Regions from separate parts of the Homo sapiens genome. Here all the other regions are linked to region 3. The links come from fine-mapping of genetic effects on gene expression. A gene starts in region 3. Each other region holds a variant in brackets. All regions are shown on one strand. Distances are from middle to middle. Region 1 overlaps SAMD12 (sterile alpha motif domain containing 12). Region 2 overlaps SAMD12 (sterile alpha motif domain containing 12). Region 3 holds the start of SAMD12 (sterile alpha motif domain containing 12).

Evidence for each region. PIP is the estimated chance that this variant, and not a neighbour inherited with it, causes the effect.
Region 1: its variant is the best candidate, but not a certain one, in a credible set for the expression of SAMD12 in whole blood (TOPMed, PIP 0.65).
Region 2: its variant is the best candidate, but not a certain one, in a credible set for the expression of SAMD12 in whole blood (TOPMed, PIP 0.55).

Annotation. Positions count from the first base shown.
Region 1 is chr8:118,464,790-118,472,972 of GRCh38, reverse strand. The region is part of intron 2 of SAMD12 (sterile alpha motif domain containing 12); the gene reads left to right. Among named protein-coding and RNA genes, the nearest start is that of SAMD12-AS1, 150 kb to the left of the region's middle. The variant A/G (reference allele first, on the strand shown) is at 4,316.
Region 2 is chr8:118,544,501-118,552,683 of GRCh38, reverse strand. All of the region lies in intron 2 of SAMD12 (sterile alpha motif domain containing 12), which reads left to right. Among named protein-coding and RNA genes, the nearest start is that of SAMD12-AS1, 72 kb to the left of the region's middle. The variant G/A (reference allele first, on the strand shown) is at 3,692.
Region 3 is chr8:118,616,903-118,625,085 of GRCh38, reverse strand. It overlaps SAMD12 (sterile alpha motif domain containing 12), which reads left to right and starts at 3,123. Exons shown (of 4, transcript NM_207506.3): 1 at 3,123-3,282. The coding sequence starts at 3,270. SAMD12-AS1 (SAMD12 antisense RNA 1) reads right to left here and starts at 4,085. Exons shown (of 5, transcript NR_038210.1): 1 at 3,900-4,085; 2 at 3,431-3,551. RefSeq lists a silencer at 2,781-2,930 and enhancers at 3,031-3,230, 3,841-4,050, 4,081-4,130.

The DNA of each region.
Region 1 (8,183 bases), 150 kb after region 3:
GGTGAGCAAATGGGAAATACTGGGAAATACCTAGCACTCCTCCTAGGACAGACCATTTTGAGACAATTTTAAGCCTTTTTTTTTTTCCTGTCAAAATCTACAGCAAGGCAATAGCTGTGGATAAGATTGGCATTTGTGGAATTTTTCAAATTACCTTCTATTCTGAGTCAGCAATGTATACCAGGCTTTTTTACTGTAACCAGCCACTTTCTTCTATTAGGATATTCCAGTGGAAAACCACTGAATAAGTAGAATCCCTCCTGCTCTTCTTCCTTTTTAATTTTTTTAACATTTATTATAGAAAGGGCCTCATTCTGTTGCCCAGGCTGGAGTGCAGTGGTGCGATCATCACTCACTATATCCTCAAACTCCTGGGGTAAAGGGATCCTCCCACCTCAGCCTCCCAAGTAGCTGGGAATACAGGCGCAGGCTGCCATGCCCGGCTATTTTTTTCTTTTTAGAGATGAGGTCTTGCTGTGTTGCCCAGGCTTGTTTTGGACTCAAGCAGTCCTCCTGCCTCAGCCTCCCAAAGCCAAGGGTTTAGAGGCATGAGCCACTGCACCAAGCCTCTTTATACTTATTGAAACTCAGCTGTGTGACAGGCTTTCGAGACCCATTACCACACCTGACAACAGTCTGAAAGGTGCTTGGCATTATTATGTACTTGTACTCTTTTTTTTTTTTTTTAGATGGAGTCTCGCTCTGTCACCCGGGCTGGAGTGCAGTGGCACAATCTCGGCTCACTGCAAGCTCCGCCTCCCGGGTTCACGCCATACTCCTGCCTCAGCCTCCTGAATAGCTGGGGCTACGGGCACCCACCACCACGCCCGGCTAATTTTTTGTATTTTTAGTGGAGACAGGGTTTCACCGTGTTAGCCAGGATGGTCTCGATCTCCTGACCTCGTGATTCACCCGCCTCGGCCTCCCAAAGTGCTGGGATTACAGGCGTGAGCCACCGCGCCCGGCCTATTGTGTACTTTTTACAGATGAGGAAATTGAAGCAGTAATTTTCCAATGACACTACAGCTAGTAAGTAATGAAACTGGGATTCAAACTCAGTTTTGTTTTGTTTTTTCTATATCCCACTGCCTTTAGGCAGTAGATTTTCTTTAGGTAGATCTACCACCCTACTTTGTGGACTGTATCAGGTACCGGGATCTCCATTGTCATCACCATCACCACCACGGTCACCACCACTACTGCCATTACTATTGCCATCACCACCACCAAAACAAAAACAGTAAATAAATACCTAAGACCAAGAGCAAGTTTCATGGACACTACACCCAAACATCCTAAAGATGAGTTATTTTTGCTTAACTGTAGTTTTCTTTTTTAACAACATGCTTTAATTTTGGCTTTGCAAAGGGATTTTTACCAAGTTTCTTTGGCCTATTCTCTAATTTTGGCTTTGCAAAGGGATTTTTGTCAAGTTTCTTTGGCCTATTCTCCTGCTAATGTTTTCAGTGGTGACATTGGTTATAATTTGGTGCCATCAAACATTTCGATGGCGTTATTGGCTTACCCACTACTTTAATACTGTTTTGGTACAACTAAAATTTTTGCAATGGAGTACACGATGAAATTGCTTCATGCTAACCTTCCCCCTCACCAAATAATGGTGACTGCTAAAAGTCCTTACAACTGCAGACTAGGTAATTGAATAATTTGTATATCAAATTAAGGTCCAAATGATGCTTTTAATAGCACAATTACTCATAATAAGGAAAAGGTCAGCATTCACTAGTAATTATCTATTCTCTATAATTTTTAAAACATGAAAAAAAAAATGCTGTGACCAGCATATCCAAAGGGGAAAAGGCACTGTAAAACACCATTGGTATGAGAAAATCATGCTTTATTATTAAATTAGCAATTTCATTTGAGAGACATAATGTATAATTGATCAGCTAATTTGCCTGAAGCCTTTCATTTAAATACTGTATTTCACAGATTTTTAAATGCACATATTCTTTCACATTTTCAAAATCAGGCAACATTGTGTGACATAGTTTATTTAGCATCATTCTTTTTCTGTCTTAGTTGTACATAAAATTAATCCAAGTCTTAAAATCATTACTGTCTTATGTCAGATGAAATAGAGGATTCAGATCTCTTTAATTTTTCCTGAGAAGATACCCCTAAAAGACTACAAGAACTCTTTAGAGGGAGCAAATGCTGAATGAATACAGAAGAGTGAATTCACATATTCTAATATGTTCATTCACTTCCCTAATTTATATTATGTGCCTTATCTATGTGAGACACTGTGTTAGCATTTTATGGGAGTAATAATCACAATGATAAATAATATACCCTACTGCATTTGGATAGTGCTTTATAGTTGATCAGGAGCTATTACATGCATCAGCTTACTTGTTCTCAGAGTTAACCTTGGAAGATAGACATTATTTCTATTCTCTGGCTAAAGAATAAGTGACAAGCCTTCTGCAGGTTGGGCGACTCAGCTAAAGTCATTCGGGTCAGTGTTGACAGAGCCAGAACAAGAGTCTTTCAACTGCAGGTCTGCTCTTTCCACTATAAAAACAGAGGAAAGTACAAGTGAAAAAGAAGGGGCTTCCAAAGCAGCTAAGTTTAGTCCACCTTCTACTTCACAACCTAATACCTAAGCCACCCACACCAGGTTATCTATTGCTTTCCATGTTATTTTTTTATTACCTAAGTAATACATGAACATAAACCTCCTTTTTTTTTAAAAAAAAAAAAAAGATAACATATTGAGTGACAACACACTGTGTGTATGTGAGTGTGCAAATAGCTTTATAGCATAAGTGGAGTCATATAATAGTGTTTAGAGATTTGCTTTTCTCACACTATATCTTGGTGATCTATTCATTCATTCAACAAGTATTTACTCTTCTCAGCACTGAGAAATATTCATGTGTAGTTTTCTCTTTCTGTCTTACTCTCTAAAAGATGAGGAGTATTCCATTATATACATATATATGTATGTGCGTGTGTATATATAAAATTATGGTATCCATGTCATAATTTATTAAGACACTTCTCTGTCACTGGACATGTGGCTTCTTTTGAATGTAATTTCATTGCAATTAATGTTGAAATAACTACATAAAAATTATAGTACAGGCTGGGCATGGTGGCTCACGCCTGTAGTCCCAGCACTTTGGGAGGCTGAGGCAGATGGATCACCTGAGTTCAGGAGATTGAGTCCAGTCTGGCCAACATGGCGAAGCCCTGTCTCTACTAAAAATACAAAAAATAGCCAGGCGTGGTGGCACGCGCCTATAATCCCAGCTACTCGGGAGGCTGAGGCAGGAGAATCACTTGAACTTGGGAGGCAGAGGTTGTAGTGAGCTGAGATCATGCCACTGCACTCTAGCCTGGGTGACAGAGCGAGACTCTGCCTCAAAAAAAATACATATATAATATATTATATATAATAATATAATATATATAATATATTATATATATTATATATTATATAAAAATATATATATAATATATTACATGCTTATCTGTATAAATGTGTATACTTGTGGGCTAGATCCCTAGATAGGAAGGTTAAAGATAGGTGTGCTTAAATTTTCATTGTTTTTGCCTAACTCTGCAAAGGAAACTGAACCAATCATGTGACAGGCTAGGCAAATAGACTCTCCAAGAACTCCATTTATGAAATGGATGAAATAACACTTACCTCACAGTTCTGCTGAAAATCCTGCAGCATAGAGCTATGGTAGCCACTCTGCAGCATTTTGTCCTCTTCCATGGATAAGATAGGTCCACAAAAAAAGTACACAACAAGGTAGTAAAGGCTAAGGGGCATCTGAATGGCATGGGTAGTTTTAAAAGGTGAGAGATGACAAGGGGACTTCTGGCTGCTGTGTGGAGGAAGGGCGGAAGACTGAACCTTGACCTGCTAGTGGACAGGCAGAAATGTGCTGGGCTGCCTTCCAGGCAGAAAGAATAGTGCGGACCAAGGCAGAGAAAGGAGATGAATGTGATGGGAAAGGAGTAAAATCCAGCAGAATCCTATATGATATGATGAAGCAGCAGCCTCTCACTGCAACTTAATACTTTTGGATTAAAACTTTGCCTTTGCATCTCGTTAGTCATCAGCAAAATAAGCTACCGTGCTATATCTCCTTAGCTTGGCAATTGCTTTTTGTACCTCCCTTCTCTGCACAGTGACAAGAATTAATACACCCATGGATAAACTACCAAAAGTTGTGCATATTCCTCTAGCAGGGCATAGTGTTCATAAAAAGGTCAGTGATCAAGTTGTAACAGAGGTGAAAAATCTAGTATGTTGCCACAAGGAAGCCACATTTCA[A/G]TTGAACTCATTCGAACAGCTGTGTGCCCAGCATTCTGCCAGGTGCTTGAGTCAAGGAGAGAAAAGAGTGAAAGGGACAATCAGGTTATAAGATCAACTCCCAGCTCACTGAAAACTTTCATATTAAAAATAGAACATTGCTTCATATCAACAGAGCTCTCTGAAGAACCGTGTGCCTCACTGGCTCTCTCTTTGCATTGGGTTATTTACTAGAGGCATTTCTGAGCCAATGGCAATAATAGCAGGGTAGTTGAAAGACACTGGCGTTTTTGGAGAGGATGCTGCTGCCAAGAGGAGTGGGTTTTTTGTGAACGTAAGAAAACTGGTTGGTTTACAGAGGCAGTTGGCAAAAAAACCCATCTCTCCTTGCTAGTTCATGTTACCACCTGGTGAATCTGCCAAAGATTATGATGATACACTTTTTGGCCAGCTTGCCACAGCTGTTTTTCCACCATTTATGTTGTTCATATTGTTAGGAGTGGGCCTGGGATGTGTATCTGCATATATACTTCTTGTGCTAGGGTACTCTGCTGTGTGTTACAGTTCACTGATTTCCACATTTGTTCTGTTGACAGACTATCTTGTTACGTGCCACAAAGTAAGATTTGTGGTTTGCACGAATGAGATTACTGAAGGAAAAAGAGGTGGTGTCTTGTAGCAGATTTCAATCTCCCATTGGATGGATAAAATGATCTGTGGCATGGTGCCACATTGTCCCCATCTTTATGCACTCGTGGTCCATAATGCCATGAGTCTTTTGATCTTGTCAAAGCCTTTTAGGCTCTTGAATTGACAGAGTGTCTTGGCGATTTCAATGTGTAATCTAAAGAGCCACCCTAAGTCACAAATTGATTGGCCCTGTCATCAACATACTGGGTACCATCTACTCCGCATTTTTGTCTTAGACCATAATTGACAGAGCAGGATTCAAACAGATCCTTACTAACTAGCACGTTTGACCTGTGCCAGTCTCCAAATTGATTAGGAGGTGCCAAGCCCAAGGCTTTCCTAGAGTCGATATCTAACAAGCTTGTAAAGTAAAGGACTGCTGTCCAGACATCTTGCTATTGTGTATTTTATGCTGAGTTTCCGTTGTGGCAAAGATCATGGCCACATGTTCTGCAGGGGTGCACAAAAGATGACTTTTCTAACAGAATCTGGATCAGAGGGCTTAACTTTAAAGTAGAGGTAGCACAGCTTTTGAAATATAAAACAAAAGCAATAATAAAAATAAACATTCATGTAAAATTTTCTATGTGGGAGGCATCAATCCAAGCAGTGTACGTGGATTATATCACTTAGTTCTTCAACAATCCTATGAGATAGCACAATTGTTCCCATTTTACAAAGGTAACAGAGGCATACTAAGAAGATTTGTTCTGAGTTATGTAGGTGTCAAGCTGGGATTTGAACCCAGGCAGTTTGACTTTAGCATCCCCAAACTATAATTGGTCATGAGGGTCCAAGGGGGTCCAGAAGTAGTTGTATAAACAAGAAGTTCAGGCAGGAGGCAGAATCATTTCATGGCTGGACCACTGCCTCTGAATAGATACTCAAGAAAATGCAGTCCTGTCATTTTCTGTTCCCAGCTGCCTGTTATCCTCTTTTGTGACTACTACTAGTAATCATTGATTACCAAAAATGGTTTGTGAAGCAATCCAATTAAGTGAGCCAAGAATTACATGTCAAGTGTTACCATCTTTATTTGCTTATGTCAAGTGGAGTCAGAGGCTTTCTGTGATCAGCAAAGCAAGTGAAAAGTGGTTAATTTCCTTTAAGATTTGTCAAAATTTGTGGGCAGGGAATCTAATTTTCGGTTTAATTTTCCTTCTTAACACACAACGTATTTTTTTTTCTCTCTCTCCCTATTACTGCTAGCCAGAACACATCATTTGTAGTTTCACTTTACTTGAGTGTTAGGCTAATAATATTAATATGAATCCTTCTCTCGTCTTATCTTTAAGTAATTTGTAAAGGATGGTCGGTTACAGACCTGCTTAAATAGATGTCAGCCATTTTGTAAAGATACCTGAAAAAGCAAAAGATTTTAATTAAATTGTCTTTTAAGATATTTATACTTACCCCACTTGGGTGTTTTTTGTAGTTAATACTTTTGTGTTATTTATGGTATGCCTACTATAGGCTGGACATGGAGGAAGTGAATAAGGGTGAATAAAAGCCCTAAACAGCTTTGAGTTTTCTCCTATGTAAAATGAATATACTAACTACATATAATTATGTAGTGTAATAAAATGAATATAGTAATTATATTTATTTCATAGAGTTGTGGTTAAATCATATAGTCTTCGTAAGTGTCTTAGTATAGTGCATGTGCTAAGTACTCAACAAATGTTAGCTGTGGCCACATGGCTTTAAGTTTGTCTTGGCTCCTGATCCCATACACTGGATCCAGCTGACTGGCCTGGTTCAAGGCCTCTCCTTGTTCTATAGGCTATTGGACCTGCCTGGAGACTTCCTTTTTCTCTTTTACATTGCCCATGCCTGAACTGTGAGTGTTTTTAATCCTATACTGAGATTTCATCTGTGATAACACTATGCTACGTGTTAGTTATGAGTGTAATAGAGTATTTGTTTGAGATGAGATGTGAGATGGAGAATATCTTCAATTCCTCATCTAATATGCTAGTTTCCTTTTAGTTACCACTAGGTGATCAATGAAGCCTCTCTTAAAAAGAAAATAAAGATCCATCTGAGAAACTAGGGCTATACCTAGGATGACCAACTAATCCCAGATGGATTTTGTGTTGAAAGTTTTGAGTCCCAGAAGCTCCCTAAGGTATCCCCAGGACTGCCTCACTTTTAAAACTCGAAGTCCTAGATTCCAAGAATGTCCTTGGTCCTGTGTAAGCCAGGATGGATGGTTATCATATGCATGGAATACTAAGGCAGTCAAGAATTTGCCCGTCATATCTTGTTTGTATGTAATTGTTTGCCATAATTTAAAAAAAAACTATTCCATTTAACATAAAATAACTGCCTTTAAAGTTTGGTAAAAGAGATAAAGCTGTTACATAGCTTCTCCTAAGGGCAGCCCTTGACAGGGTCATGAGAAATCTATGTCTTACCCTTTGCTGTGTGTGTGTCCGAAGTCATATATAATTAAACAGATCTAGAGACTGTGCAGGACTGTTTGAGAATAACAAGAAGACAACTGACAAATGAGAAGTCCCTTTTATTGATTTAAAATGAGAACAATAACTGGCAAGCAGACAGATGCCTTGGGTTAGCTGATCATCTTCTTTTAGCCCCTATAAAAAATGTCAACCTAGAAAATAAAATAAATGTTGCTTGTTCATCATGGTACCAGAGCAAAAAAAAAGTTGAGTAATCGTATTAGGAAGACATCAAGTTTTATGAGTTCCACTCACCATCTGAAGGTACTTCCCAGTTCAGTGGTTCTCACCCTTGGCTGTGAAGTATAATCATTGCTCCTGGGTCAGCTCCTCCCTTCCCTCTTCCCCCACCCTACCCAGAGATTCTGATTTAATTTGGTTGGGGTATATTTTAAGATTGGGGTATATTTGCTCCTTTTAAGAAACTCTTCAGATTATCCTAATTTTCAGCCAGGGTTGCAACTAAGGCTGTAGGGATCACTTACCCTGCAGGCATGGAGAACCTCCTCTGGACCAGGCACTGAAAACCATGCACATTGCCTCTGCTTCAACTCCACAAAGACCAAACCATTTAGTGAAGACAACACAGCAGAGTATAGCATCTATTAATTTATGTTTGCAGTCTCATGAGTATAACCCAGACCATTTCAATAGGACTTGGGAGGAGTTCCAAACTGTTTCTTATGGTGGGATAAATCTTTGAGTGGCTAATATCCTCCATTTATAATTGATTA
Region 2 (8,183 bases), 72 kb after region 3:
GCCGTGGCCAGAACTTCCAACACTACATTGAATAGGAGTGGTGAGAGAGGGCATCCCTGTCTTGTGCCAGTTTTCAAAGGGAATGCTTCCAGTTTTTGCCCATTCAATATGATACTGGCTGTGGGTTTGTCATAGATAGCTCTTATTATTTTGAAATACGTCGTCCCATCAATACCTAATTTATTGAGAGTTTTTAGCATGAAGGGTTGTTGAATTTTGTCAAAGGCCTTTTCTGCATCTATTGAGATAACCATGTGGTTTTTGTCTTTGGTTCTGTTTATATGCTGGATTACATTTATTGATTTGCATATATTGAACCAGCCTTGCATCCCAGGGATGAAGCCCACTTGATCATGGTGGATAAGCTTTTTGATGTGCTGCTGGATTCGGTTTGCCGGTATTTTATTGAGGATTTTTGCATCAATGTTCATCAAGGATATTGGTCTAAAATTCTCTTTTTTTGTTGTGTCTCTGCCCGGCTTTGGTATCAGGATGATGCTGGCCTCATAAAATGAGTTAGGGAGGATTCCCTCTTTTTCTATTGATTGGAATAGTTTCAGAGGGAATGGTACCAGTTCCTCCTCGTACCTCTGGTAGAATTCGGCTGTGAATCCATCTGGTCCTGGACTCTTTTTGGTTGGTAAGCTATTGATTATTGCCACAATTTCAGCTCCTGTTATTGGTCTATTCAGAGATTCAACTTCTTCCTGGTTTAGTCTTGGGAGAGTGTATGTGTCGAGGAATTTATCCATTTCTTCTAGATTTTCTAGTTTATTTGCGTAGACGTATTTGTAGTATTCTCTGATGGTAGTTTGTATTTCTGTGGGATCGGTGGTGATATCCCCTTTATCATTTTTTATTGCATCTGTTTGATTCTTCTCTCTTTTTTTCTTTATTAGTCTTGCTAGCGGTCTATCAATTTTGTTGATCCTTTCAAAAAACCAGCTCCTGGATTCATTAATTTTTTGAAGGGTTTTTTGTGTCTCTATTTCCTTCAGTTCTGCTCTGATTTTAGTTATTTCTTGCCTTCTGCTAGCTTTTGAATGTGTTTGCTCTTGCTTTTCTAGTTCTTTTAGTTGTGATGTTAGGGTGTCAATTTTGGATCTTTCTTGCTTTCTCTTGTTGGCATTTACTGCTATAAATTTCCCTCTACACACTGCTTTGAATGTGTCCCAGAGATTCTGGTATGTTGTGTCTTTGTTCTCGTTGGTTTCAAAGAACATCTTTATTTCTGCCTTCATTTCGTTATGTACCCAGTAGTCATTCAGGAGCAGGTTGTTCAGTTTCCATGTAGTTGAGCGGTTTTGAGTGAGATTCTTAATCCTGAGTTCTAGTTTGATTGCACTATGGTCTGAGAGACAGTTTGTTATAATTTCTGTTCTTTTACATTTGCTGAGGAGAGCTTTACTTCCAACTATGTGTTCAGTTTTGGAATAGGTGTGGTGTGGTGCTGAAAAAAATGTATATTCTCTTGATTTGGGGTGGAGAGTTCTGTAGATGTCTATTAGGTCTGCTTGGTGCAGAGCTGATTTCCATTCCTGGGTATCCTTGTTGACTTTCTGTCCCGTTGATCTGTCTAATGTTGACAGTGGGGTGTTAAAGTCTCCCATTATTAATGTGTGGTCTAAGTCTCCTTGTAGGTCACTCAGGACTTGCTTTATGAATCTGGGTGCTCCTGTATTGGGTGCATATATATTTAGGATAGTTAGCTCTTCTTGTTGAATTGATCCCTTTACCATTATGTAATGGCCTTCTTTGTCTCTTTTGATCTTTGTTGGTTTAAAGTCTGTTTTATCAGAGACTAGGATTGCAAACCCTGCCTTTTTTTGTTTTCCATTTGCTTGGTAGATCTTCCTCCATCCTTTTATTTTAAGCCTATGTGTGTCTCTGCATGTGAGATGGGTTTCCTGAATACAACACACTGATGGGTCTTGACTCTTTATCCAATTTGCCAGTCTGTGTCTTTTAATTGGAGCATTTAGTCCATTTACATTTAAAGTTAATATTGTTATGTGTGAATTTGAACCTGTCATTATGATGTTAGCTGGTTATTTTGCTCGTTAGTTGATGTAGTTTCTTCCTAGTCTTGATGGTCTTTACATTTTGGCATGATTTTGCAGCGGCTGGTACCGGTTGTTCCTTTCCATGTTTAGTGCTTCCTTCAGGAGCTCTTTTAGGGCAGGCCTGCTGGTGACAAAATCTCTCAGCATTTGCTTGTCTGTAAAGTATTTTATTTCTCCTTCACTTATGAAGCTTAATTTGGCTGGATATGAAATTCTGGGTTGCAAATTCTTTTCTTTAAGAATGTTGAATATTGGCCCCCACTCTCTTTTGGCTTGTAGGGTTTCTGCAGAGAGATCCACTGTTAGTCTGATGGGCTTCCCTTTGTGGGTAACCCGACCTTGCTCTCTGGCTGCCCTTAACATTTTTTCCTTCATTTCAACTTTGGTGAATCTGACAATTATGTGTCTTGGAGTTGCTCTTCTCAAGGAGTATCTTTGTGGCGTTCTCTGTGTTTCCTGAATCTGAATGTTGGCCTGCCTTGCTGGGTTGGGGAAGCTCTCCTGGATAATATCCTGCAGAGTGTTTTCCAGCTTGGTTCCATTCTCCCTGTCACTTTCAGGTACACCAATCAGTCGTAGATTTGGTCTTTTCACATAGTCCCATATTTCTTGGAGGTTTTGTTCATTTCTTTTTATTCTTTTTTCCCTAAACTTCCCTTCTCGCTTCATTTCATTCATTTCATCTTCCATTGCTGATACCCTTTTTTCCAGTTGATCGCATCGGCTCCTGAGGCTTCTGCATTCTTCATGTAGTTCTGGAGCCTTGGCTTTCAGCTCCATCAGTTCCTTTAAGCACTTCTCTGTATTGGTTATTCTAGTTATACATTCGTCTAAATTTTTTTCAAAGTTTTTAACTTCTTTACCTTTGGTTTGAATTTCTTCCTGTAGCTCGTAGTTTGATCGTCTGAATCCTTCTTCTCTCAACTTGTCAAAGTCATTCTCCGTCCAGCTTTGTTCCATTGCTGGTGAGGAACTGCGTTCCTTTGGAGGAGGAGAGGTGCTCTGCTTTTTAGAGTTTCCAGTTTTTCTGCTCTGTTTTTTCCCCATCTTTGTGGTTTTATCTACTTTTGGCCTCTGATGATGGAGATATACAGATGGGTTTTTGGTGTGGATGTCCTTTCTGTTTGTTAGTTTTCCTTCTAACAGACAGGACCCTCAGCTGCAGGTCTGTTGGAGTTTGCTAGAGGTCCACTCCAGACCCTGTTTGCCTGGTTATCAGCAGCGGTGTCTGCAGAACAGTGGTTTTTCGTGAACCACGAATGCTGCTGTCTGATATTTCCTCTGGAAGTTTTGTCTCAGAGGAGTACCTGGCTGTGTGAGGTGTCAGTTTGCCCCTACTTGGGGGGTGCCTCCCAGTTAGGCTGCTCGGGGGTCAGGGGTCAGGGACCCACTTGAGGTGGCAGTCTGCCCGTTCTCAGATCTCCAGCTGTGTGCTGGGAGAACCACTGCTCTCTTCAAAGCTGTCAGACAGGGACATTTCAGTCTGCAGAGGTTACTGTTGTCTTTTTGTTTGTCTGTGCCCTGCCCCCAGAGGTGGAGCCTACAGAGGCAGGCAGGCCTCCTTGAGCTGTGGTGGGCTCCACCCAGTTCCAGCTTCCTGGCTGCTTCGTTTACCTAAGCAAGCCTGC[G/A]CAATGGCGGGCGCCCCTCCCCCAGCCTGGCTGCCGCCTTGCACTTTGATCTCAGACTGCTGTGCTAGCAATCAGGGAGACTCCGTGGGCGTAGGACCCTCCAAGCCAGGTGCGGGATATAATCTCGTGGTGCACCATTTTTTAAGTCTGTCGGAAAAGCACAGTATGTGGGTGGGAGTGACCCGATTTTCCAGGTGCCGTCTGTCACCCCTTTCTTTGACTAGGAAAGGGAACTCCCTGACCCCTTGCACTTCCCGAGTGAGGCAATGCCTCGCCCTGCTTCGGCTCGCGCACGGTGCGCTGCACCCACTGACCTGCGCCCACTCTCTGGCACTCCCTAGTGAGATGAACCCGGTACCTCAGATGAAAATGCAGAAATCACCCGTCTTCTGCGTCGCTCACGCTGGGAGCTGTAGACTGGAGCTGTTCCTATTCGGCCATCTTGGCTCCTCCCCTCCAGTTGTAGATGTTAACAAATACCTTTAGAGTAACATCTAGACACATTTGACCAAACAACTAGACACCATAACTTAACCAAGTTAACACATTAAGTTACCCATCACATGGGGTGTGTGTGTGTGTGTGTGTGTGTGTGTGTGTGTGTGTGTATGTGTGTTTTTAGTGTAAAGGGTATTATGAACACATTGTAAGTTATTAGGAAATTTGGAAAGGGAAGGAATCATATATCTATTACCCCACTGGAGCCTGTTTTGTTTTCTTCCAGTGTTTTTATAAAAGGGTATCTTTTAAAATATCGTGAACATATTTGCTATATGTTACAGCTTTTGTCTGTTGCTCATATTTGTCCCAGTTGTCAGAGCAAAAGCACTAACATGGGAACTTGAGGCCCTGGATGCTTGTCCATTCTCTGTGTAATTTCATTCTTTGTCTATTCTCTCACTAATTTCTTCATGAGTTGAGAAAGAAATAAGGTCCTCCTGGGCTGTGGTTTCCTTCTCTGTTTATGAAGAGTTGGGTTTGGTAACCTCGAGTGACCTTTTCAGCTTGAATATTTTATTAATCCAGGATGTCCTCAAGTGTGTTACATGTACCCCTCTATCACTATATGCCAGAAGGTTGGAGGTCGTGTGAGGATGAACAGTGTTTGATTTAGTAATTTAACATTTTGTATATTTGAAAAAAATAGAATTAACACATCAAATCTGGTTTTCTGTGGTTATTTCTTAGGACAAGGTGAAAACTAACAAAGGGAATTACTTTAAAGAAAAATACTAGAAAAATACATATTTTATATGGTATAGAAAAAAGTTAGAAATGACCAAAGTTTGGGATGTATACTATAATAATCTGTGAGTGTGATTCAGTATGCTCTCACCCTACCTTTCAAGAAACCCATAAAGACTGGAGTTCTCTTAGCAGACAGCAGTGTGGATAGATCATTGCTCAGTTAATACTTTGCCCAACCTGTATTGTACACTTACTTGTGCTAAGTACTGTGTAAGGTGCAAGAATCTTTGGGTAAATGAGATGTGGATTTGGCCCTTGGTCAGTTAGTCTAGTGGGGCAAGGGAAGTGTAAATGATTAATTACAACCCAATACTTTATCTACAGTAAGAGAAGTATGTTCTAGGGACCAGGCTGGGGATAACAGAGGGGAGAAACTAGCCTTACTCAAAGGACACCAAAAAAAAAGCCTCACTGAAGTCATTCTTGATTTGGCCAACAAATTGGCGATGGACATTCAGGTGCAGGGAACAGGAAAGAGGTTGTCCAGAGAATTTCAGCAGACTCATAGGTGTTTGCTGCTACATTTTTTTTAAAAAAGACGTGCCTGTGGAACATGCTGTTGTAAAACTTTTTCCCTGGTCACGAGTGGCAAGCTCGCACTAATCTTTCAGTATTCACAGGTTAGATTCTGTAATATTTGCCATCTCTGCGTTTATCTGTTACCTAACTTGGAGCTTCTATTTCTTTACTCCTGAATGAGTCTCAAGCAAAAGTCTGAATATTCTGTAAACATTCTTTTTCAGTATGGCTTTTGTCCTTCTTTTAAGAAAGAAAAGAAAAATGGTTTTCAGTGATCTTGGATGAGGGAAATCTTTGTATCCTTAATTAAATGCCTGAATTTGGTTTTGTGTTTGCTAGGAGCCTACTGTAAAGCAAACTGATGTGGCCTTCTGTTCTCTTCCAGGCACCAAGTGTTTGCTGGGCTCAGTTCCCAATGAGTCTGTGTAATGCATTCCTTCTGTCCCACCCCATATTGCAGATCTGTGGAGGCTGACATCATCACCTTGAATAATAAAGCTATTCCCAAATGTAACAAGTTGAAGTGCCTAAATGGAGGAATGCGGGGTTAGAGAGGTGCAGCGGGGCTTTCCAGTGAGTTCAACATTGTAATTGTGGTTTGCCTGCTATTAAAAAAATCTTCTAGAAATGTCTCATTGTAATTAACAGAGATTAAACATTTAAATTTAAAGTATTTTATAGGGCTAATTTATTGCTCCATTGCCATCTGCCCTGAAAGCAGATCTGTTGATCTGTTCCCTTGACAGCCAGTGAGATTCAAGTTTGCCTCCCCTCCCGGTGGGCCCCTTCTCGACCTTGGAAGCTGATAAGAATCCTATGGACAAAGCTCGGGTGGGCTGCCAGGAAAAAATGTTGGATTCAGTGTTATCTCTGGTTGAGAGCAGAATAATGCTCTTCTTTTCACATCAGGGCTGGGATTTACAGAAACCCCTCCCAATTCCACCTCTTCATTTAATGCTAAGTGCTACTCAACATTGTCCAGGTCTTGGCTTAAATGTTAATTGGTCCAGGAGCCTTGCCTGACCACCTAAGGCTTGGTTTAGTCCCCTTATTCTATTCTCTGATAGTACCCTGTGCTTTTCTTCTCATCACACCTGGGTTTCTCGCTGCACTGCAAGCTGTGTGAAGGCAGGAATGATGGCATTTGTTTGGAGCTTGCTTTGTGCCACGAACTATTCTAAATGTTTTACATGTGCTCCATGGAGAGGTATGTGACAGAGGTTAAGGGTCCCGGTTTTGGAGCTCGACCACTCACATAAGCTCTGTGGAGTAACTGAAGGCAGTACCTGGGCTCTGGCTTTGCAGTTGGGAACAATCAGCTCGGTCTCTCACTAGCTATGTAACTCAGGGAATTTCATCCCACCTGCCAGGCATGTAACCACAGATTAACCAAGACTCTAGTGGAAGCTTGACACATGTTAACTATATTTCATCTGTTCAAAGATGCATAATTTTTAAACCTTTTAACATTTCCGAAATTGGGAGGCATCTTACAGTTGCTTGCATATTATGATTTCATTGCCAGTATGTTTTTTCTTTTCTATTCCTAAGGAAAATGTAAAATAATGATGTCTTGGGTTCATCAAGATTCATTGAAGTATGTTATCTCTTTCTCTTTCCTCCACTTTGGGCGAAGACTATGGTGTTTTGAAGAAGTAGATACCCTAATTCAGGAGTCCTAATGATGACCTATGCATAAATACCTGTGTGGTGTTTAGAATTGCCTGGGATTCTTGTTTTTTGTTTTGTTTTGTTTTTGAGATGGACTCTCACTCTTGTCACCCAGGCTGGAGTGTAATGGCACGATCTTGGTTCACTGCAACCTCTGCCTCCCAGGCTCAAGCGATTCTCCTGCCTCAGCCTCCCCAGTAGCTGGGATTACAGGTGCCTGCCACTACACCTGGCTAATTTTTGTATTTTTAGTGGAGATGAGATTTCACCGTGTTAGCCAGGCTGGTCTCCACTTTCTGACCTCAGGTAATCCACCTACTTCGGCCTCCCAGAGTGTTGGGATTACAGGTGTGAGCCACTGTGCCTGGCCTGGGGTTCTTGTTTTAAAATATATGTGTGCATGTTTATACATGCATGTGTATACATGCACACACACATATTTATATAGTTTTGGACCTCATCCAAGGTCTACCGACTTGTAGTTATTTGACTGAGGCCTGGGCACTGGCATTTTATCAGTTGCCCTAGAGGGTTCTGTTGCAGCTAGTGTGAAACAATTTGAAAACCAGTGATCTCATTCGTCTGCTGTTGGCTTTAACTTCCAGTCACTACTTTGCCTTTTTATATTTAATTTCTTCTTCTCTTCGTTATATGTCGAAGCACCTAGCACAATGCCTGGCACATAGAATGTTCTCAAGAAAACTAACATGTTTCCTCATCCTTTCACCTTAATGTTTCTGAAATTGTAGGGAGGCAGAGTTGGAGGATGTGCTGAAGAAATAGTGGTGTGGTGAGATGAGAGCTACTGACTGAACTTTCTCCAAGTTGTTAGCAGGGAATGAAGGTTGAGAAGGAAGCAGGAAGCCAGACACCTCTGCTTGCATGGTTTTTGGCTGTCTCTGAATCTTGGCGGTTTTTCCCTTGGGTCTCTATAATGTCTATCAAGTACTTTAGTTTCAGTGTGATTTTCAAGGAATGTGACCTGGGGTGAAATCCCTGGAGCAACCGTGTACACTCTTTGACTGACTTTCAGCCCTCGCAAATCTAAACATCT
Region 3 (8,183 bases):
TCCAGCACTCGAAGTGCTTATATACTATAAGGAACAAACAATAGCATCATAATGAACACAGAATTTGGCTTATGAGAGGTATGGGATGAGGTCTGGACTTTGCCCCTTGCTAAAATTGGGTATATCTGTTAGGAACTGTACTTGGCTGCTGATAAAAAAGACCAAAAATAAGTCATGATTGCAGTCTGTGAAAGATACTAAAGCAGAAGCTAAGCTGTGCCCAAATTACTGAGCCACAGAAACTGAAGTAATACATGGGTATTGTTGTAAACCACTAAATATTGGGATAATTTGTTAACAGCAATCGATTAATACATGTGGCTCATCATGTTGTTGTATACAATTGTAATTCCTTCATTTGCATTACTTTATAGGAGGGTTTGGAAAGCTTTTTTTCTGCAAAGGATCAGGTAGGAAATATTTGAGGCTTTGTAGGACAAGAGGCAAAATTGAGGATATTATGTAAGTATGTCTTTATAATTTCCAGGCTTTGCAAATTATACTTTTTTTGTTTTTTTTCCAACCATTTAAAAATGTAAAAATCACACCTAGCTGGTGAGTTATAAGAAATAAATGGTGAGCCATATTTGGCTCATTGGTCTTAGTTTGTTGACCCCTGCTATATGGAATTATTTGGTTATACCACAGTTCATCTCTCCAATCTGTGTTGATAAATATTTGAGTTGTTTTCCATTTGGGAACATTAAAATAATGCAGCCACAAACATTCTTGCACATGTCTTTTGGAGAACATCTGTATGCATATTTGTTTGGTGTAAACCTAGGAGTAGAACTTCTGGGTCACAGGATAAGCATATATTCAGCTGAATATTTCAGATGGTTTTCCAAAGTGGTTTTGTGAATTTGCACACCACCAGCAATATATAAATCTTTATTGCTTCACAATCTTGCCAACGGTTGGTATTTTGTGTCTTTATCTTTCAAACATTCTAGAGATAAATGTAATTTTTTTTTAGTACTTCCCAGGTGATTCTAATGTTCAGCCAGAATTGAAAACCTCTGCGCAACTATTGTTTATCCCTTATTAGGCAGAACCACATGAAATTGTTCTATTTGTAGGTTTTAAAAATGGTCAAACATTGGCTATTTCATATGGTAGAAACTAACATCTCCTTCACATTTTATTTATACTAAAAATAAAACTCGTCTAGAATGCACATCACTGGGAAAAATATTAAAGATGAGCTAAGATGAAGTTTTAAAATTAACCACAGATTTCAATGACTTTTATATTTTTATATCACCCAGATATTTAAAAGCTTGGAACCAGACCAATGGTTTTCACCCTCAATGAAGACTGGAATCACCTGTGGGTTTTTAAAACCTGAGTGCCTCTACCCAAACCCCCATAAGCTCTGATTCTGTGAGACTAAGATAAAAGCTTAGGAATATATATTTGTAGAAGGCTGATGCACAGCCAAGGTTGAGAACCATTGATACTACCTGTCCTATGGCTTTCTTTCACATTCATTCAATCTCAGAAAATACTTAACACTTTGGTGATTTTATATACATAAAGTAGTGAAGCACCTGGATTTCAGTTCTTTCCAGAGTTTAGAATGCTTGGCTGTGTATTAGGTCGGAAAATTCTTTTTCCCATGGAAATTATGTCTCACTGAATGGGTCTCTCTCTACTGTACCTAAAAGAGAGGCTTAGGTTTGACTTGTACACAGCTCCATGGACTCAGAATTAAAGTATCAACAAGAGCATTTAATGGTTACACGCAGGTATTTTTTAAAGTACCTATACACATATTATTATTATATATTACCCAGTAGGGGAACTAAGCATGTAATTAGTGACCAGAACAACAGGTGTGCATGTATACACTGAGAAACGAAATTGTTTTGAAAAACATTTTTTTTTTTTTGCTGATGACCAAGACACACAAAAATGTCTAAGTAGTCATCATGGGAAGAATCCGATTTTTGTACTTCCTCATTTTACAGAGATTAACATTATATATGAGTGACTGGGTGGATGTGGTACCAAATACATTTGTAAACTGAAGGCCTTTAAAAGTCAATCCAGTCTTGAGCCAGATTTATTCCCGAGGCTATTCCCTTACCCCTTCCAGCCACAACTGTATCCGTATTTTCACACGCAGGAAAAAATGTTTAGAAACTTAATTTTTACGAGCTGTCGAATTGTATTGCTATCCACGTGATTCCCATTATCATGTCTGCTTATAGCATCCCCAGCACCTACAGCTAGGACATAGGTTCAGAAGTTGAAGGAACCTGATTCTCAGGCACTGTTAATTATTAGGCCCTATCACAGGCTGTCAACAGGCTCCAAGTCTAGGCAAATTGAAAGCCTCCTATCCTGGAAGCCAGACAGGCTTTCATCTGACCTCCTCCGGTGCAATCCTGGCTCCCAGACTTTGTTCCTAACAACCCCTTGGGGACGTTGCCTATTGGGGTTTAAGCCACTCCTCCTCCCCTACACCCCCATGCCAAGTATTTAGCCACCTGAACCACCCTGTAGGATAAGACAACTGTATCAACCGTCGGAATTCCCCCACAAAACCCATACATCTCAGGGTGCGAAGGAACAAGTTTCAACCTCACCCTGGGCAGCGTTCTCTGGCCCAGGTGGAGAACCACACAGGAGGACAGTGGTCCTGCTCTCCCTACTAAATGGTGGTTCAGGAGGCCAGGGGGCGGGGCGGTACCGGCGGCAGAGGCCCACGGACGAGCTCGCAGGAGCTCATCACACAGCTGACCGTCACCTGCCCACCTCACCACACCTGCTAGGTGCCAAACCCCTTGTAATGGACAGGGAAGGGCTCAATCACGGGTCCCTACTCTTAGCAGCGAACCTATCTCAGCGCACGGCCTCCTGGGAGATGTAGTCCAGACCGCTTCCCGGGAACCCCCCCCCCCTCCCCCCCCGCCCCGCCACAACCAGGCATCCCTGGTCCCCTCACAACTTCCCCAGGAGAGATTGCTCGGCCTGGCCAGCTGAAGCTGGAGTTGCTCTCCAAGTGTCGGGGCCAGGCGGCACTCCGCGGAGGAGTCGGGGTGCTCTCCCCAGTCCGAGCGAAGGGAGGGAACTACACTTCCCAGGACGCCCTGCGCGCGCCGAGCCGGGAGCCGGCTGCCTCGCTTTGCGTGACCGCGGCAGGTTGGTCCTGGAGCAGATAAGCGCAGAATATTTAGGCGAAAGCGAGAGGAAGGGGGGAGCGCGGGGCAGGAGGAGTACCTCGGCCAAGAAAATTATGCATGCGTTAGGGAAGCTCTGAGAGAATGGCTGTGGAAGGTAAGGGACGCTTGGGGCATTTTTAAGCTCCCTCTTAACCCGCGCACCCCAAGGCACACATCCCCGATGAAGCTTGGCGATCGTGGGGAGGCGAGGAAAGGGGGTGGCGGAGAGCGGGCCCCTTCCTCCTCCACCTCTTGGCACTCACCTGCGCCGCCAAGGCCAGTAGGCGCTTTAATTCAGTTGCTTTGGAGAGACGTGAAGGGTAGGTGCGTAGGACTTTGAGGTAGGAGGTGTGGAGACGAGTGTCCCTGATGCGAAACGATATCCTGGAAATGGGGGGAAAGCCGGAGGATCCGGCATGAGGTTTTGGCCCCGAGATGCCCTTTTTCCCTGCCCCCTCCCTCCGGAGCAGGCTGGGTGGCCCCGGGGCTGGGGATGCTTGGTTGGCCCCCCTCACGTGGGAGAGGTCCCCAGCCCAGGTGCGTCATCCGGAAGCTTGGACTGGGATTGGGTCGAGGGCCCTTCGTCCTATGCACCCAGCAGCGGCGGCCGCAGATGTACCCAGAGGGTAGAGGTGTCCCTACACCTGTCTCTGCTTATACAGCCAGCGCCCCGGGCTTAGCAAAGTTTACAGACATGAAATGTAATCAGCCAGGGAAAAGAAGTGCAACAACCTCTTCGATTTGGGTGAATCCTTTTCTTTGAAGATCACTTTCTTCTTACAGTCTTGAGCTTCGGCTTTGCAGTTTTGACCGTAAAGTCCTGCCTCCCTTGAACTTCCTGGTTGAAAGCAGGGTCAGGCTGTTCGTGAGGGATCCTGAGTTTTTCATTTCAGGTTATCTTACCTTGGAACACAAACTTCCTTGTTTAGGTAGTTTCTGAAGAAGAAAAAAAAACTGTGGACCGGAAGGGTTTGTGATGTCACATTAGAGGTCAAGCTGTGCCTGAATGATGAAATGATTGTGGGACGAAATGGGAGCCTACATTCACCTGCAGAATTTTGGTTTCTGAGTGCAGTCAGGTCAGAGGGCGTACTGAAGTAGGAAGAGGAGGGCTTGCCTGCCAGCTGCTTCAGGCGCCTTGCCAAGGGGAAATCAGCCTATTCCTTGTAGGCTAGAGACGAGAAGGCCACGAGGCTGGCTTGCTGCTCCCTCTCCTCCCTGCCCCAGGAGAAAGAAATTGAACTAATCTGACTCTTGCTCCCCTTATAACGACTGTCTTAACAACCTGAAGTAGCAACAACCCAGCTCCTATACTCAGCACCCATAAACTCGGGAAACTCTTGCCTTTGGGCTATCTCAGGTTCAGAGATCCACAGCCAGCCACTTCCAGCTTTCCTAACTTTATTAACAAAAATGAAATCCTCTCTCTCTCTTACAATCAAGATTTTTCTAGGTTTTCTTTTCTGTGCAAATGTACCAGTAGGGTGAGAATCTTTTTTTTTTTTTTTTTTTTTTTTTTGCATCGTTATGCTTGATAGTCAAGACTTCAGATGCCAAAGAACAAAACAAAAGCCGAGATAAAGTTCATCTTGAGCTTGAGACCAAGGATATGTTGACCTACTCCTTAAGTGTCCGTTCTATGTCACCCATCAGGTGACACTGATTATGATCTCTCGTCTTCACCACTCCTGTGTCCCCAAGACAGGGACACTCCTCTTTGTTGCTAGTCCACACTGTTCTCGAAAACAATTTCTTGTTCCCTGTAAGAAGTATAAATTTGTCTTATTTCTTGCGTGATGGGTGATTACACCAGTGAAGCCAGACTTTACAAAAACAAGAACTTAGGAAGGAAGTACATGTGGACTATGGAGAGTTTATTTTCTAGTGACTTGGTTAAAGTACCTGTCTAGTAAACAGGAGATCCTGAGTTTGAATCACAATGAGGTCTCAAAGAATGAAGGAAGTATTTTAAACTTTAACTTCAAATATGATTCCTATCTTTGGTCTTTGCAAAGATATCAGCCTGGACCAGTCCCTTCCTGGTTACTCCTACTTGGTCTTTCAAGCCTTTGGGAAAATGTCACTTCCTCTGGGAAACTGTCCCAGCCCTCCTTTTTCTTCTGCCTTCTCAGCACTCTTTCCAGTCTATGGGAAGTGCCTCCTGCTCACATTTATCTTAATACTTATCATACTTAATCTGCCTCTTACTAGACTCTAACCCCCTTGGGGGTTAGACTTGGACTTTATATTCCTAGCTCATAGCACAGTACTTTGCCCATAATAGGTACTCAATGCTCATGAATTGCATGGCAAATATATTCATGGAGGTTTTGTAACTGGTTCTATAAGGGTACATGGGGCTTTCTTGGAAGCCTAAATGTGATACAATAAGGGATTTCTGACAGATTTGAGGATGGGAGATTTTTTTTTTTTTTTTTTTGAGACAGAGTCTTGCTCTGTCGCCCAGGCTAGAGTACAGTGGCGCGGTCTCAGCTCACTGCAAGCTCCGCCTCCCAGGTTCACGCCATTCTCCTGCCTCAGCCTCCCAAGTAGCTGGGACTATAGGCACCCGCCACCATGCCTGGCTAATTTTTTTGGTATTTTTAGTAGAGACGGAGTTTCACCATGTTAGCCAGGATGGTCTCGATCTCCTGACCTCGTGATCTGCCCACCTCGAAGTGCCCTTCTCTTCAGTCTTTTGTCTTGATGCCCAAAAAATCTTTTAGAACAGTTTACCTCTACTGCTGGGTGACATTGTCCCTGGACACATTTGGGATATGTAGGAACTGCTGCTGGGGGCTGCTGTTGGTATTTTGTGCCCATGGCCACAGATAATAAATGTCCTGCAGCGCATGGCCATCCCGTATAACGAGGCCAAGCCATGGCCAAGTAATGATCAGTTTACCCAACTTATTGAGAAATGCTGCTTCAGAGAATAAGGAGTTTTGCCAGAGGAACTGGAATAGAAAATACAGTTCGAATTGCTTAACATTCTAAGCTTTAGTCTCCACATCTGGAAAAAATGGGCTCACTACTGCTTTCCTCCTGGGAACATTGTGAGGATTTTTTTTTTTTTTTTTGAGACGGAGTCTTGCTCTGTCGCCCAGGCTGGAATGCAGTGGCGCGATCTCGGCTCACTGCAAGCTCCGCCTCCCGGGTTCACGCCATTTTCCTGCCTCAGCCTCCCGAGTAGCTGGGCTACAGGTGCCTGCTACCACGCCCGGCTGATTTTTTTGTACTTTTAGTAGAGACAGAGTTTCACCATGTTAGCCAGGATGGTCTCCATCTCCTAACCTCGTGATCCGCCCGCCTCGGCCTCCCAAAGTGCTGGGATTACAGGAGTGAGCCACCGTGCCCTGCTCATTGTGAGGATTAAATAAAGGAGAGGGCTTCTAGAAGGGTGTCTGGAACCTGCATCCTAAGTAAATATCACTTGTACTCTCATCCCTTCTCTTAGGAAAAGCTATACTATTTGGCATGTGTTTTATATCCTGAATTTTCACTTATTCATGCCAGCCAGTTTTTCTAATTAGTAACAAATTAGAAGGTTTTTTACTATGTGTAACTTTTTCTTAAGTAAACTTGAATTTGTAAAAGTGTTACTAGCAAGTAGTTCACTCATTCACTTTGCTGAACCTGCAGCCGTGTGTTTAAGATGAAAAAGAGGTGCCCTTTGTTTATTGTTTTGTAACTACCCTGTGTTATGTTTTCTTCTTAGTTTATTTGCAACATCCTATTTATGTCTCCTAGTCTGCTTGTGACCCATGCTTTGCATTTATGGGCAGCTTACAGGTATGCTTTCCCGCCACAGAACAGGGTACGACCTTATGGTCTGCATTTGGATTAGGATTATACTGGCATACATTGCCTTTTTTTAAAAAAAAAAAAAACAAAAACAATGTCTTGTGAAATAATTTAGCAGGACTGGGGACTAGGACCTCTTGGAAGGAGGTAGCAGGGACCCCAAACTAATCCATTCTCTATGGACAGACTGTGTATAGACGGTTAAACCTATTGATGTTTTCTAACAGAAATGGGTTGCAATATTATTCAGGGAGAAGAAAAATGTGGATTCATTGGGGACAGTGTCGTATTCATCTTTGTATTCATCTCTGTATTCCAGGGATGGCGCCTGGCACTTAGGAGGCCCACAGTCATTGTTTCATGAATGACATATAAATGCACGAGTCTCCAGAGCTAGAGAAGGATTTTTTTTTTACCCCTCATCCCCAATTCCTTTTCTTGCTTTGTCCTCAGATATTTATGAAAAAAATAGGGAGGATGGACATTGTACATGGTAATTTCTATTCCAGGTCTAACAGAATAGCACCTCTCATGTGGCAGAAAAATGATTTCCAATATTCAGCACTCACCTCTCTCCCCAAGAAAAACATGTCAAATGCAAGACTGTGTGCTCTTAATGACATCTATATTAAGGGATCTGAATTTTCCATCATAAATGAACATGGTAGCTTACCAAATATCTTCTGATAAGTCATTCAGTGCTCAGGTTCTATGTTTTTTCTCCTGTAGAAGAGTGAAGAAACTACACATCACCAAAATATTGTAAGGCTAAGTAATAATAACGGTGACTGGGAAAATGGGAAATGAGATAGCGTCAAACGTTTGTGACAAATAGAAGCAGTCACGGTAAACACTGGGCTTTGCAGCCCCATAAATGATGACTTTGTACCCAACTTGAACTCAGAACTGCATCACAGAGAGTAAAAGGAGTCACATGGGAGATAAAAACATCATTTTTATCACAAGCTTATAGTGGGTTATTTTTTTCTGACTTTGGGTTGGAGGGTAAGTGGGCTTGCTAATATTGTATGCAGCAGTGAACTTACCCGTCATAGGGATGCCTCCCTCTATGCTAGTGGTCCTTAACCTTTTTGGCACCAGGGATCAGATTCATGGAAGACAGTTTTTCCATGGGGGATGGTTTTGGGATGAAACTGTTCCACCTCAGATCATCAGGCATTAGATTCTCATAAGGCATGTGCAACCTAGATC